2 separate regions of the Homo sapiens genome follow, and region 2 is linked to region 1. Evidence: fine-mapped expression QTL. Tissue or cell type: whole blood. Region 1 holds a variant in brackets; the other region holds the start of a gene. All regions are shown on one strand. Distances are between the middles of the regions.

Region 1 (4,245 bases):
AGCCTCAGTTTCCTCATCAATAAAACAATACTGTACTTCTGTGTGGTGTTGTCAGAAGGATTTTCATCATCTAGACATTTTCTTTATTCCTCTTCAAACTCTTTTGTCTCATTTATTCACTCGTGCATTTTATTATTTATTCTACAAATATTTATTAAGCATTTTTAATTCTTTAAGTGCTGTTCCGATTGATGGGAATACATAAGGAACCAATACAGTCAAAATGCTTGCCCTTGTGGATTTTATGTCCTAGTGGGGAAGACAAAGAGTAAACAAATAAACATATTATGTCAAGTGATGAGTGGTCAGTATTGTGGATACAAAAAGGCAATATAAAGTGATATGAATGTGAGCAGGAGCTATTTTGGATTGAGTGACCAAAAGTGTTTGTTGAGGGGTGACATGTGGATAGAGACCTGAATGAAATGGTGAGAGAAGGCATCTGAGGGATTTATGAAGAGCATCCATTCAAGGGACCATACATGTGCAATTTCTGAAGCAGAAATGAGCTTGGCATCTTCTAGGACCAGTAAGAAGCCAATGTAGCCACAGCAGAAGAAATAAGTTAGGCAGTAACCAGATTATGTTGGACCTTAAAAACATTTTCGGGACTTTGAATTTTATTTGAAGTATGCTGGAGAACTGCAGGAGAGGACTAGAACCACATTGAAGGCCAGTTAGCATGACTCTCAGGGACTCCTGGATAACAGAGCCTAGATCTACATGACTGCATTCAGGAATCACTTGGATCAGGCTTTATCAGCCTGGGGAAGATGGGGTGTCAACTGAGGGCTGTATTTGCATCTAAACCTATGGTGGCATGCTGTTCTCTCCAGTGATCTTAGATGTTGGATAACCCTGAATGTACCTGGTTCAGCAGAGTTGGGCTCCAACCACAGTCCATACCAAGAGACACACGGAACTCTTCCAGCCTCATACTATACAAACTATAAAAAAAGAATGAACTCATGGTTGCTGGTGTTTGTTTGTTTGTTTGTTTGAGATGGAGTCTCACTCTGTCACCAGGCTGGAGTGCAGTGACACAATCCCGGCTCACTGCAACCTCCGCCTCCCGGGTTCAAACGATTCTCTTGCCTCGGCCTCCCAAGTAGCTGCTACTACAGGCGCGCACCAGCACACCCAGCTAATTTTTGTATTTGTAGTAGAGATGGGGGCAGCAACATGGAACATGCAGGAACTGGAGGCCATTATCTTAAGTGAAACTACACAGAAACAGAAAGTCAAATACCACTTGTTCTCACTTAAGTGGGAACTAAATAATGTGGACACATGGACATAGAGTGTGGAATGATACACATTGGAGACTATAAAGTGGGGAGGGTGGAAGTGAGGTGAGGGACAAGAAAGTACTTAATGGGTACGATGCACATTATTTGGGTGATGGTTACACTGAAAGCCCAGAATTGACCACTATGCAATATATCCATGTAACAAAACTGCACTTTGTACTCCTTAAATGTATACAAATTTTTTTAATGAACCTAAAATGAGATGGTTGAGCTTCCAAATGTTCTGATGTGACACTCACTCACTCAGACATTGCTATCTGTGACCTGTGGCTAGCTAATGAAACTTTTTTTTTTTTACACTTTAAGTTCTAGGGTACATGTGCACAATGTGCAGGTTAGTTACATATGTATACATGTGACATGCTGGTGTGCTGCACCCATTAACTCGTCATTTAGCATTAGGTATATCTCCTAATGCTATCCCTCCCCCCTCCCCCCACCCCACAAGAGTCCCCAGAGTGTGATGTTCCCCTTCCTGTGTCCATGTGTTCTCATTGTTCAATTCCCACCTATGAGTGAGAACATGCGGTGTTTGGTTTTTTGTCCTTGCAATAGTTTGCTGAGAATGATGGTTTCCAATTTCATCCATGTCCCTACAAAGGACATGAACTCATAGCTAATGAAACATTTCGAGATCCAAAAGCTTACAATCACCACTTGTCCAGAAAAATGTTGCTGATACATTTGATGTGTAGTCTACAGGGGCTTTTACTGTCCTTTAGAGAAGTAGATTTCTTTTGATTTACCCAAGTGTATAAATTTCTAATACTGATCTTTCTGTCACTCTGAACCTACTATTGACTTGACCATGTAGAATAGAAACCCAGTGTCTGTGTAGGAACCAGGACGTTGCAGGGTTTGGGGCAGGGACTAACAAGATATAGTTTGCATGCTTCAAAGATCTCTCTGTCTTCTGTATGAGGAATTTATTCTAGGGAGGCAAGAATAGAAGCAGGGAGACAAGTTAGAAGATTATTAGGATGATGGTGCTGGCGATGGTAAGAAATCGGGATGTATATTGAAGGTAGAACCAGCAGAATTTACTCATGCATTGACTATGAAA[G/T]GGAAAAGCGAATCAAATAAAACTTGGAGGTTTCCTCCTGATTACCTGGGAGAATACTGATGGTATTTATTGAGGTATGGAAGGCAGGGCATAACAGGTTGGGGTGAACAGAGCACTCAGGAGTTTTGTTTAAGGCATATTAAATCTGAGATGCTTATTGGACATCTCAATAGCAATGTTGGGTAGGCAGTTAAATATATGTTTGGTGCTCAAAAGGAAGAGATGCCAGTGCTAAAGACATACATCTGGGAGTCTTAGAAGATTGTATTATTGACCCCAGCTATTTGCTCTCTTTCTGGTCATGTGACTTTTTCTTCCAGGGATGACTATACCTTCCTTCCTCATGGAATTTATGAGCATGTTCTGGCCACCCAGATGTAAGTTTCCTATGTCAAACTAGAAGTTTCTGATGTGATTATCTGGTTTACCTCTGTTTCTATTGTTCCTGCTCTCCACACTATAAGAACAATATGTCCAAGATAAGGGTGGCTACATCAGTTCTGGGTCCTGAAATAAAAAGACGCATGGACTTGAACACAGTCAAGCTGAGCTGAGTCACAGATAATCCCTCAGCCCTCATGTAACATGAACAAGAAATCAATAAATGTTTATTGTTGTTAAATACTGATATGTTGGAGTTATTTGCAACCTCAGTAAAGGCCAACTAATAAAAAAATTGGTAACAGAAGTGCTACCATATCTAAAAATATAAAATATGAGGCATTAACTTTAGGGCTAGGTAGCAAGGGAATTCTTCCAGGAGGTTGGACAAGTAAGATTCATGATATGCAGTCGTGAAAAGTTTGGTCAAATTGTGTCTTCTAAACTTGGAAGGCAGATAATGTTCCTAATGGACTTGCTGCATATGGACAAATATAGAAGGATTGAAAAATTGAAAGAGAGCATGATGGTAATATGAATAAGAGGTGAGCTCAGAAAGAATTCACCTATTTCAATGAATGAGATGGAAAATAGGCAGCAAAGAAATTCTGGGCCTTCAAGTTTGGACAATAAAATCCTTCTCACCTCCCACCTATAAAATATAAAATTTAAGTATTCCTTGAAATAGAAAGGCCTTTTAATACTCCATCTCAGGGCAAAGACAGAACCAAAGGTGTCATCATCAGGCCTATGTTAAGATTTCTGGTTGGATTAAGGTGACTTGCAGACATTTTTTTTTCCACCACTGGACAAAACGGCTCAGGGAAAAGAGATCAAGAGTACGTTCCTATGAAAGCATGATATACCCACATACCCATAATCAAGTCTAGAGAAAGTCTTTCTTGAAATGAGTAATGGTTGTGTCTATTGGAACATGGATCCAACCAGTACCAAATAGATTAAAACAATACAACAAAGTGTTTGAGAGAGTTAGGTTGTCAAAAGTGCTGCCAGTCTGTGACTATTTGAAAAGCAAAGTTGGCCCTTAGGCTAATTTGCTTTTAAATGACTTTAGAGATGGGGTCTTTTTCTGTCACACAGGCTGGAGTGCAGTGGTGTGATCACAGCTCACAGCAACCTCAACCTCCTGGGCTCAAGTGATCCTCCTGCCTCAACCTCCCAAAGTGCTGGAATCACAGGTGTCAGCCAGCCCTTAGGCTAAGTTTTTATGGGCAAGAATATGATGTATTCTGAGGGAAGAAAATATATGTGATCAATGTTGGATCATGATAGATTATTATTCCCAATTATTTGTTCCCATAGTCTAATAGGATGATTTATCCTCACTCACTTTCTGTCATGTGAGTTGTCTTCCCTCTTCGGAGAGACAATGTGTCTCCACTTCACATATTTGGATACATGAAATAATTCAGTTAATAAGATGTGAGGACATGTACATATCTGAGAAAAAGCTTTAAATATGATTTCATG
Region 2 (4,245 bases), 52 kb after region 1:
ATATCCAAAAGAACTGAAAACATATTGTTCATGCAGAAATTTGTACACAAATGCTTATTATTGCTGCATTAGCTACAATAGCCAAAAGATGAAAACAACCCAAATGTCCATTGACAGATGAACAAATAACTTGTGGTATAAACATACAATGGGAATATTATTTTTCCATTAAAAAGAACGAATACTGGCATGTGCTACAGCTTGTATGAATCTCAGAAACATTATTACAAGTGAATGTAGCCAGCCACAACAGGTCATGTATTGTGTGATTCCGTTTATATGAAATATCCAGAGGTGGTGGTTGCAGATTTTGAATGTGCTAAATGTCACTGAATTGAATACTTTAAAATGGTTAATTGTATGTTATGTGAATTTTACCTCAATTTTTTAAATGGGTCATAAACTTATGTTTAGCATAATCCCCTTTTAATTTTAAAAAATGCAGATATTACATGAGAAAAAATGTGCTAGAGCATATTTCAAGACATTAAAGATGGTTATCAGTGAATGATGAGAAATTAGGTAATGTTTATTATTTTCGCTTTGCTAAAATTATTTAAAAATTACTTGCATATTAAATTTTTTAATGCCTAGGAAAGAAAGACTATAGTTGTATTGACTAAGATTTCTACGAGCATGGGGAAAATGCTTAATTTGTAGGGTTAATCAAGGATAAAATAAATTGCATTGTATGTACAATGTGATCCCAAGTATTTAAAACACACTGCTTATGGTAACAGTCAGTCTGTGGGAGACAGGTTAAAAAGTGATATTTTCCCTTCCTACTTTCCAAATTTTCTTAACAAACATATATTATGACTATAATCAGAAAAAATTATTTTTAAAACGTCTACTATGGGGCAAGCTAGGTTCAAAAAATAGAAGTTTGATAAATGTAGTTGGCTTGCTATTGACAAGGAAGACGTTTACACTGGAATTCTATATTTTGAGATATACCATTCCTCATAGAAAAATTTCCTCACAGAAAATATAAAGGTGGAAACAAATCACAAGAATCGAACCATGTAGAGAGACTTAGTTGTCTTTTAACAGAATTGGGCACGGGCTGTTCAGAAACAACAATCTTTCACATCCATTATAATGATAGCATTAGTGTAGTTTGTTTAGCAAATGTTTACTGTGAGCCTGTTATGTGCTGAGCCTGCTATGTAAGAAGTGTGGCTCTCTGGACAGGAGACAGAATACTAAACAACACAACTACTGATCTTTGGCTGCCTGGCATGCTTCCTCACTTCATATGGTATCAGCAATTTAGCACCACAAACGTCCTTTAGAGAACCAGCCCTTTCTCATTCTTGGTTCTAGTGGCTTGAGTAGACTGACCCCAGCCTACCCAAAGTGGATTTGACTCCTAGCAATTCATTAATCTAGCCCAATAAAATGTCAAGTACAGGACTTTTATTGAAAGCATTCAGAAAAGAGGTGGACTCTCACACTAAACATTTGTAACTAAATAAGGGATGTTAGAAATTCTCTAGAAAGGAAGCTATGATAATAAATGGGTTGCTAGATGGGTCTAGTAGATGGTGGCCATGCTTTGTTACTGCCTTGTGTATTGTGCTACCATAGCCCTCCCCAAACTGTACTCTGGCTCCTGGCATTTCCGTCTCTTCAACCAGATGGTCAGCTCTCTAAGTGAAGGAGACACATCTCCAACATGCTTGGTTCTAGCACAACAGAAGGGCTCAAACACATACCTGCTAAAGAAACTATCCTGATGGATTTAGCAGCATGGCCATGAGGCATTGGCGGTTCTATCACTGGGAACTCAGGTTTCTGGTGCTCCAGTACCTCTACTGGCTGATACCACATCCTACAATTCACTTCATAGGCTTGGGTTCCTGCTCTGGGCTGAATAGGTGGTCCACTCTGAGTCATCAGCTGTGGGTGATGATGTGGTCACTGCATGATTCTCACACAAGCACCCAGAGGACGTCATCAGGCAGAGGCAGTGGGGGTGGGCAGCATTTACAGAAAATCTGTGATGAGACACCACAAAACCAGAGGGGAACATGAAGTCACTGAGCCTGCTCCACCTCTTTCCTCTCCCAAGAGCTAAAAGAGAGCAAGGAGGAAACAACAGCAGCTCCAACCAGGGCAGCCTTCCTGAGAAGATGCAACCAATCCTGCTTCTGCTGGCCTTCCTCCTGCTGCCCAGGGCAGATGCAGGTGAGTGACCGTCTCCACCCTCGGGGGCCCAACCCCATCCCACAGGTCTCCTGCCCTTTCTCCACATTCCTGATCCATCTATCTACCAGGAATGTTCTGAACTCCAGCTCCCATTCTACCAAGACCCCCCAAGTGTGATGCTGGATAAGCTATCAGCAGGAATGGCAGAGCAGCAGGCCATTCTCAAGAAGAGCCAGTGGGTACTATCCCTTCCCCAGAGCCCACCTTTGTCACCTGGAGAGTAGGACTTTCCTAGAAGTAAATGGCAGAGGATGGGAAACTAGAAAAGAGAAATATTAAATTATTCTAGAGTAGGCCTGGCTTCTGTTTCTGGGATAAGACAGGTGCTTCTCTCACTGTCTACTTAGGAGAGAAACCCAGAGCTCAGCTGACAGCAGAATTGGTACAATCACTGTCCTCAGAACACTGTTAATGTGTTTGCTCAGTCCCATTCTCCAACTCTGCTTTTCTTCCCTGGCCTTTGGTGGCTCCCCTCTTTCCAAGGATGAGGCACTACGGCAGGCCCCAGCTTCCCTGCTTTCTAGAATTCCACCAGCACTGCTCTACCAGCCCTCATCCAGAGGCTAACTGGAGCCAGTCCATCATGCAGCCATGAACATTTACTGGGCACCCACTACATGTCAGGCTCTAGGAAACAGGATATGACAGTATCTAGATCCCTCCACTTACACCCTGGCCATTAGAAAGCAGCACTATCCTAGACACCACAGGACTCATAAGGGTCTTGGAAACTCACCTGAAACAAAGCAAAGTCAGGAGAGGAATGATCAGGAGCCTCTGGGATTTCACTGTCCCTAAGACAGGTATGCTCGCCTTCAACTACATATGGAAGAAAGATTTACAGACCAAAGTCTGCTGTTCTTCCCTTTTTCAGAGCAGGAAATTGAAGCCCCTTCCTCCAGGCCACTCCCAACTCCAGGCTATCCCAGGCTCCCAAATGCCCAGGAGTTCTGGAGCCACTAAGCAGGTGCCCACCCAGCAGATTCCATGGGTGCCCACAAGCAGACAGACTTTTCCTTCAGGGGAGATCATCGGGGGACATGAGGCCAAGCCCCACTCCCGCCCCTACATGGCTTATCTTATGATCTGGGATCAGAAGTCTCTGAAGAGGTGCGGTGGCTTCCTGATACGAGACGACTTCGTGCTGACAGCTGCTCACTGTTGGGGAAGGTGAGGAGCAGAAAACAGCCCACACCCTCCTGGAAACACTCCACAGAGACCCCTGCCTTCTTCCCAAGGAGCTCCCTGGGCTCCTGTGAACACACATGCCAGGAGGTCTCCTTAGAGGGTGAGAAAAGGGCAGTTAAGTTTGTGGAGAGAGGGGAAGGTTGGTTCCAGAGGTGCTGCTGAAGTAAGAAACAGCAGAGTGACCAAGCCTGCCATATTTAGAACTGGGGGCATACTTTGGCATAGAATACAAACTGAAGCAATTCCACCTGTGTTTCTAGGGGGAACCGAACCCTGAGAAACCTGGTGCAATTACCAGAATTCCAATTCCTGGGGACCGACTGTCCCCTTAATTTCCCCTCAGCTGCAGCCCTGCCCCAGCTGTCACCTGCTCTTCACTGTCTCTGGGCTGTATACCCTGTGACTCCACCCCCATCCTCACTCTGCTCTCTGTGCAGCTCCATAAATGTCACCTTGGGGGCCCACAATATCAAAGAACAGGAGCCGACCCAGCAGTTTATCCCTGTGAAAAGACCCATCCCCCATCCAGCCTATAATCCTAAGAACTTCTCCAACGACATCATGCTACTGCAGGTGAGGCACACTCCTGCCACTCTTGCTCTTCTTGGTCCAGTTGGTTCCACTCCCCCTGGAATGCCGGCCCTTCCCTCCTTTCCATCCTGGCCTCTTGGTTAGTTCCTATGCCTCAGAGGAGAGGGAAGATTGTGCAGCCCCATCACTGTGTCGGGGCCCAGAAGTTCGTTGGCTGACCTGGACTTTCTTGCCTCTTCCCCACCAGCTGGAGAGAAAGGCCAAGCGGACCAGAGCTGTGCAGCCCCTCAGGCTACCTAGCAACAAGGCCCAGGT

What was found. PIP is the estimated chance that this variant, and not a neighbour inherited with it, causes the effect.
Region 2: GZMB starts here. The variant in region 1 is the best candidate, but not a certain one, in a credible set for the expression of GZMB in whole blood (TOPMed, PIP 0.51).

What each region holds. Positions count from the first base shown.
Region 1 is chr14:24,683,571-24,687,815 of GRCh38, reverse strand. No RefSeq gene overlaps it. Among named protein-coding and RNA genes, the nearest start is that of GZMB, 52 kb to the right of the region's middle. The variant G/T (reference allele first, on the strand shown) is at 2,374.
Region 2 is chr14:24,632,051-24,636,295 of GRCh38, reverse strand. GZMB (granzyme B) reads left to right here and starts at 2,106. Exons shown (of 5, transcript NM_004131.6): 1 at 2,106-2,190; 2 at 3,234-3,381; 3 at 3,837-3,972; 4 at 4,178-4,245. The coding sequence starts at 2,136. GZMH-AS1 (GZMH and GMZB antisense RNA 1) reads right to left here and starts at 3,194. Exons shown (of 3, transcript XR_007064087.1): 1 at 2,948-3,194; 2 at 1-2,000. RefSeq lists an enhancer at 1,528-2,727.